Linked DNA regions of Homo sapiens. The protein of the gene in region 1 interacts with the protein of each later gene in a pairwise test. Each region holds a gene or a part of one and is shown in the gene's direction. Other genes may lie near its edges.

Region 1 (3,395 bases):
GGAACACATCCTGATGGTGCTTCGGTGCATATGACTGCAGCCTTACGAGGCCTTAGGAAAGAGCGTTTTGATAAACCTGCCACACGTCTGTGTCCCCGCTATACTGCTGTCTAGACACAGCCACTCCAGGTTCAGCTAATGTTTCATTAGGCCAGGTACAGATCCCCAGAACGAGGCCTTTATTATGGCCCATGGACAGAAAGCCCTCTAAAGGATAAAGAATGCAGAGTTGGATTTGGTGACCTTATAATCCAAAGTAAGCCGTGAAGTAAAAGTTCTTGTTCATGTTGGTTCACCAAGAACATCCTGAGATGTTGTAATCTTGCACATCACATCCCATTACTCCTAACTCCAGTGGGTTGTCCCAATTACATGAGATTCATTATCTAGAATGAGACTTGAAATAAATGAACATTTGGAATTGGGGAAGCTGTCTTAAAGTGGCACTGCTTAAAGTGGCTTTATGATCATGATATCTGGCCTTTGTCATCTCTAGGGATTTTGGTTTGGGATCAGGTTGCCCATCCCCCAACCAGGCCTCTTAAATTTGTCAGCTTTCATTAACATCTTGTGTTTCTAGTGGCTGAAAGATACCTAGTCAGTTAGGTCTGCATCTAGCTGGGGCCACACCATCTATAGGATCCTGCCATTTTCCAAGGGCCGTACCCTGCTACCATTTGACACCTCTGTTTAAAGACACTGATTGCACCTTCATTTTTTTTTTATTGACTACCCCATTTCTCTCTATTAGACCTTCTTGGGATCTCACTATCTGCTGGAATTGTACTAGGGTTGGGCTTGATCCCTGTCTAATTAGTGACTCTTCCTCTTCTTTGGGATTTTATCTTATATCCTGCATCTCCCTGCCTCTTCTCCCCCGCTCCCCCAATATGGCATATGGGTGGCTCTGTGCTACAGTGAATTCTGATTATCTCTTAGGAAATAGTTTAGGTAAGGATTAAAATATAAATAAAATAGATAAGAAATCAAATAAAATCAAAATTATAAAGTAAAACAGGATTTTTCAGGGTTAGTGCCAAGTTGTTTGCCCTTACCATTCTCCCTGGCATCTGGGGGTTGGAGCAGAGACAGTGGGCCACAATTACAGGCCTAGTCTCTGCCCACCACAGGATGGTGTAGTGGAATGAACACATGCTGCAAACACATGGAGCCAAGACTTCTGTTGTGTCCCTCTTTCCTGGCCCTGGCCCTTGTGCCTGTTCCTAACAGGGAAGCTGCAGTTAGGGAGGTAGCATTGTGTTGCAGTAATACGTGGGTGGCAGGTTCCACGGTGGAAGGCTGTGGTTAGACAGAGGGCATGCTCAAATATGACCTGGGTTAGGCTTTCCAGCTCTTAGACTGGTTCCCCAGAGTCATTTGGGAAAAATATTTTGCTTTATTTGAAAGACCTGATTCTTCAATCCCAGAGAGAACAAATATGTTTTCAGAGTACTTGATAATTCTGAAGTGTCCGAATGTGACCTTTGGGTCATCAAATTGCACTCAAACCCATTTGAATGGAAGGCAATATTAGTTGAGTGCCAAGAATACCATGAATATTCATTAGTTCTCTCATCATCATGATGATTAATACCCTTAAAGCTATAAATGTCTGAATTCCTTTATGGACAGTTGATCTTGAGAGTGGTTTGTCTACATGAGAAATTAATTTTTGACATGATAGTTAACATCAGTATTGGCTTTTTTTGAAATTTGTTTATCAGAAAAGAAATTGTGTCTACCAAATAAGAGCTTATGTGTATTTAGCTCAGATGACATCCCTGAATTATTTGCTATTTGACATCCCTGAAACACACACACACACACACACACACACACACACACACTCTTACACGATACTTACTTTGGTGTAGACCCAACCAATCCAAAGTGTTTATTTAAGGGGCAGGAGCTGCATAGGAGAAGAACGTGTGTTTCAGAAGACTCAGCCTATCTTTAAACATCTTCGTGGAATGATCTCAGGCAAACTACTTATGATATCCCAAGTTTTGCAAAACAAGAGTGGTATATTAACCTCTTTCACCAGTGTACTATTATGATGAATGGGAACTGTGTTCATAATTAGTTTATAAACTGTCAGAGTGCTTTAAAAATATGAGGAATATATACCCATGTGTACGTATCTACATCTTTGACATAATTATACAAATTATAAATTTATTTCTTCATCTTTATGCAGAATTTTAATTTTGCATTGTACTTTAGATGTATCCATTGTACATTAAAACAGGTGTTCAGTTTAGGAAACAGGCTAAAGCTTCATTTAGGACACAGATGTCTTTAGAATATGATGTGTTTTTTGTTTACTTCTTGTTTCCTTATAGGCCAACCGAGCGATAAGTACCGTTGAGTTTGTGACAGCTGCTGTTGGTGTCTTCTCATTCCTGGGCTTGTTTCCAAAAGGACAAAGAGCAAAATACTATTAACAATTTACCAAAGAGATATTGATATTGAAGGAATTTGGGAGGAGGAAAAGAAACCTGGGGTGAATACTTATTTTCAGTGCATCATTACTGTTCCAGATTCCTATGATGGATGGCAGACTCTTTAATAAATTGCTTACTGATATTATCTTATCATTGAGCCAATGAAATTTTTTTCCCCTGCTAGCATAGATGTACTGTGGCAGCTTGAACGGAGAAGCAGTAGTCTTTTGAGTGAGCCAGCAGAAGATCTTAACAAAATCTCATCACATTTTATTTCTACTATAAATATTATTTTCCTTTTCCCCAAGGGTGGCCATTTTGCCAGAGGCATGAAAGACTATTTATATATGGTTTTGAAAGAAATTTTAAGAACCCCAGATTGTTAAGAGTTGACATCCAAATTCATGTTTCTTTTCTTGTTGGAAAAGAAACTGGGAAATTTAGCATTTTGGTTAGGCAGTTTGAGGGACTCTAATTTACAAGCCTTTTGGGGAATGCACCCTCATCTTCTTCCTGCCTGTGTAGATGAGGGTGGATGGGAAGAGGAGAGGCTGTTTGCTCCAGGGTTTCAGTTCCGGTGATTTGTGTGGAATCTACTTGCTTGTCAGGAGGACATGACAAGTAAGAGTGGGCTGTTATTTCTACAGTGTTACATATTATTCCCTTTGGATTTTGAAGTGTTTCAGGGATTTGACCTTTTAACCTTGAGAAGCAATCATTAAATGTTTGTTTAAAATGCCATATTTGGAAAACAATATCTCATATTTTTAAGACTTTTTTACAAGCCAAGGAATGTCATAATTTTATTCTCTCATTTTATTATGTGTTGAATTAAAGACACTGCTTTTTATGCTGCTCCAGTGAAATTCTTGGTTGCAGCAGGTGGAGAAAGGGGGAGTGCAGCTCTCTCTAACCTAGGATTACATCAGACATTGTAACATGACCCCA
Region 2 (3,828 bases), on another chromosome or scaffold:
ACTTACGGATATGGAGGAAGGGAGACATATTTGGGACCAAGGCTCATTAGTAGGTTAGGGTCTGCTGTACCTACCCGTCTGCCAACATCTATCTGCCAATATTCCCAGACTTTCCTGTTTCTAAATGCTGATTTAGATAAATGCTTTTCTAACCAAAATGAAGCAGTATGGTATTTAAGTCAACCATGGAAATAAGCATTAACATATGTGCCCCCACCTGAAAGACATCAGGTTAGGTTCGATTTGAATCAGGCAGGAGGCCAGATGCAATCAAGTCCCTGAAGTCTGGAACTCCACCAGAAGAAGAGATCAGGCTCCCCTGCCCCAGGATCCTCCAGACTGCAGAAGATCTAGGGAGGTCAGAATAGAGCAGGGCTCCCACATCTTTGATAAAATGTGATTTTGTAAACTAGAAGAAAGGGGGAAATGGCAAAAGCAGGCCTTTCTCTAAAAGGTCTAATAAACGGGATGATGCCGGGGTACTTTCCAGGCCTCCCTCATGCCATCTCTATCTCTACGATTACATCACAAGCCCCAGAACACCCTGGCTCTACACGCAAGGCAGGCCACACACTGGACTGCTTGCATAGACCTAGAGCAGTTCAGTGGCTCAGTGAGGACTTGCTATCCCAACTGGACCAAGTTGGAAGCCCTACATGGTATGTGAGATCACAGAATTGGTATTTGATACCCCTGGAAATGGTTGCATCGTCATTTCACCAATACAGCTACACTTTCCTCTAAGGCCTGTGGGTTTGACATTGATCCTTATATGTTTATTTGTTCATGGGCTTGTTAGAAAGCTTTTAGATTGAGATTTAGGCAAAAAAGAAAGTGAACTTGGTTTTTAGCCGTAAATTTCTCTAGACCATTCTTAGGTCAAACTAACCAGCTTCCTTCTGCAGAAATTGTTCAGTGCTACATGGGCATGTGAGAACAAATTTTGCGTGCTCAGTGCTAAGACACTTTCTCCCACCAACTCTACCTTTCTCATAACAAGATCTTAAAAGATGATTTCATTCCCTCAGTCCTTAGGTGCTGTCCTGTCCTCAGGTGCTGATGTCTAATCACCACACTGTTTGGTTCAGTCACCTGCTATCATCCCTCCAGTTTAGGGGTTCTGTCTCTTTAATCAGCAGGCAAAAAATTCAGACTCAGGCTTTTGACCCTGCAAAATGGAGAAGCATGTACTGCTTTTGAATTTTTAAAAAAAAAAAAAAACAGTTAGAAATTTGACACTAAGACATCTAAGCAACTGGGTGGAGATCTGAAGTAGCAAGTGAAAATGATACCATTAATGATATTGATGATGGATGTAAAGGCAATTGCAAACAATTGGTTTTTTGTTCTTAACTCCAGTCAAACACTTACCAAAACAACTAAACTGGTTGGACTTCAACAATCTAAATGAAATCTTGAAGCATGAATGTATTTCCCATGCAGTATGGAAAGGAAGAGAGAGAGAAAGTAGTTAAAAAACAATCTCCATTCCTACCACACACCTTTGGCTTGCATTGTTCACCACCTTTTAAAGTAATGCCTGATGTGTTATATGCTGGTCCTCCAGAAATTCTAAACTTTCCCCAGAAGTGACCTTTGTTCTCCCAGTGCCTCACAACACTCTTAAATACCAAAGAGCTTCAGGGGGCAAGGACAAGAATTTTCTAAAGGAAACCCTTCTCCACTTGCACTGGACAGGCTGTCAAGACCCAGCAAGACACTTTGTCATGTTATCTCACTCCACATTCGCTTTCTCTCCTTGTAGCTACCTCATCCCTGAACTCCCAGCTCCAGCAGCTCCAGCTCCAGCTCCAGCAGCAGCAGCAGCAGCAGCAGCAGCAGCCTCCCCCGTCAACCAACCAGCACCCGCAACCAGCCCCACAGGCGCCCTCGCAGTCCCAGCAGCAGCCGCTGCAGCCCACCCCACCCCAGCAGCCACCACCCGCCTCTCAGCAGCCGCCAGCTCCTACATCTCAGCTGCAACAGGCGCCTCAGCCCCAGCAGCACCAACCCCACTCCCACTCCCAGAACCAGAACCAACCATCTCCAACCCAGCAGAGCTCCAGCCCCCCGCAGAAACCTAGTCAGTCTCCAGGACATGGCCTGCCTTCACCGCTCACGCCACCCAATCCTCTACAGGTATGCTCCCCGTGCTTCCCGTCTGCCCCTAGGAGCACCAAGGACCTTTCCATGGGGTGGTGCCATCCCCAAAGGCAGAGGGACCACACAAAACTTAGCATCCAGTTCTGCAGCATCTAATTCAAATTGATCTCTTAGACATAGGGAAGAAGAAGCAACTAGAAGGCAACTGGGGATGCATGTAAACGAAACAAATAGAAGCCCATTTCTGTTGCCCTCCAAAGGATAAATGTTATCTGTTTCCTTCTGTGAGAGGCCAGCACTATAAGTGCATTTGGAGCCTGTAATAATTCCATTTTATGATACTTTTTGAAGGCAGCAAAGATAGCATCCAATTAAAATTATTACTAGCACAGTTTTGTAGCCCCATGGAGAACTGCATCTACTGTCCATGAGGCATGGTGGTTATTTCTCTATATTATGAATACAACAGTGTCTCACCTTAAGTACTTTGTGCTCTTTTGTTTCTATTTTTCTAAAGACTCTCTGGGGTTAGGAGGGCAAAGAAATTTAGCCCCAGTCTTATGTCCCAGATTCCAACCATTACTCCACAGACTAACAAGTACTCTAAATTCATGCCAAGAGCCTCAACCAATATGCATCTTTATAAAGGAATAAAACTTCTATAGGTTTACTTTATTACTGTGAGGCTGAGAGCTTCATAAATAGATATTTCAGGCTAACCATGAGAGCTCATCTATAACCTACCTATTGAGAAGGAATGGATAGGTGCATTCATATATATATATATATATATATGACTTTAAACTTCAGAAAACCATTTTTAACTTAGGTGTCTTTAAAATAAATTAGCTTCAAAACATAATGACTGTGATGTCATCATATCAGATCCAGAAATTAATAACTCAGCCAAGCCATCCATTCTTTGACTTGCACAATGACATTTTTCCCTGTGAGATTTCAGACAATCTCGTGTATTTGTAGTACTGTGACAAAGTTAAACAGAGTGAGCAGCCTGTGGACCTGTTTCAAGTGCCATCTCATCCCCTTGCCATAGTGGTGGGTATAAACCTCAGTCAGTCCGGCTCTCCCCAGCCTGAGAATGACAGTAGCGATGGTATCCTTGGCTCCTAAATAGAAAAGTATACAAAATAAAGACAGGTTGGTACACGGACAGAAAGGCAGGTGGATTAGAGACTTGGTATTTTAGAACTTAGTTTGTTGTCCCATAGCTTTGTCTCTTCCAATTTGGATTCTCAGTGGTGTGGCCCAAAGCATTCCTAGAAATGAACACATTTGGGAGAGATGAGTCATTGTGTTTTTCTGGGCTCTTGGGCCAGGGCTACTTTCAATTTGAACATTTTCATGAGTGGAGTTTCAAGATGTATTTATACAATTCTTACGATGGTGAGACAACGTAACACCTTTGACCTAGGACTAAAATGAACATGGTCCAAAAACGTCTTCATTGTCCACTTGACACCTACTGAAAGAGCAGGTGTCATCAAATTTACAGAAGGCATGATTACAGCAACCTTAATGTTGGCAGCATTTGGGATTCAACTTTATTATTCCAAAAAATTAATTTAATGCTTTTTAAGAACACTTACATTAGATGTACCTATATACCATCTAATTTCTCTATTCCAGGCACCAAAATAGGTAAAATTACCAAAGAAAAATATTGCCCTTCCTTGAGGAGTGAAATTACTTAGGTGTGTCCCCAGT

The links.
Region 2: the proteins of PLAAT1 (region 1) and POU6F2 interact in binary tests that used the Homo sapiens proteins (3 or more experiments, as listed by UniProt).

The regions. Positions count from the first base shown.
Region 1 is NC_000003.12:193,268,259-193,271,653, forward strand, and holds the end of PLAAT1 (phospholipase A and acyltransferase 1), read left to right. Parts: intron 1-2,345; coding exon 2,346-2,447; 3' UTR 2,448-2,597; downstream 2,598-3,395. UniProt on the Homo sapiens protein: Exhibits both phospholipase A1/2 and acyltransferase activities. Shows phospholipase A1 (PLA1) and A2 (PLA2) activity, catalyzing the calcium-independent release of fatty acids from the sn-1 or sn-2 position of glycerophospholipids.
Region 2 is NC_000007.14:39,337,877-39,341,704, forward strand, and holds part of POU6F2 (POU domain, class 6, transcription factor 2), read left to right. Parts: exon of another isoform or gene 1-1,244; intron 1,245-1,765; coding exon 1,766-2,139; intron 2,140-3,828. UniProt on the Homo sapiens protein: Probable transcription factor likely to be involved in early steps in the differentiation of amacrine and ganglion cells. Recognizes and binds to the DNA sequence 5'-ATGCAAAT-3'. Isoform 1 does not bind DNA.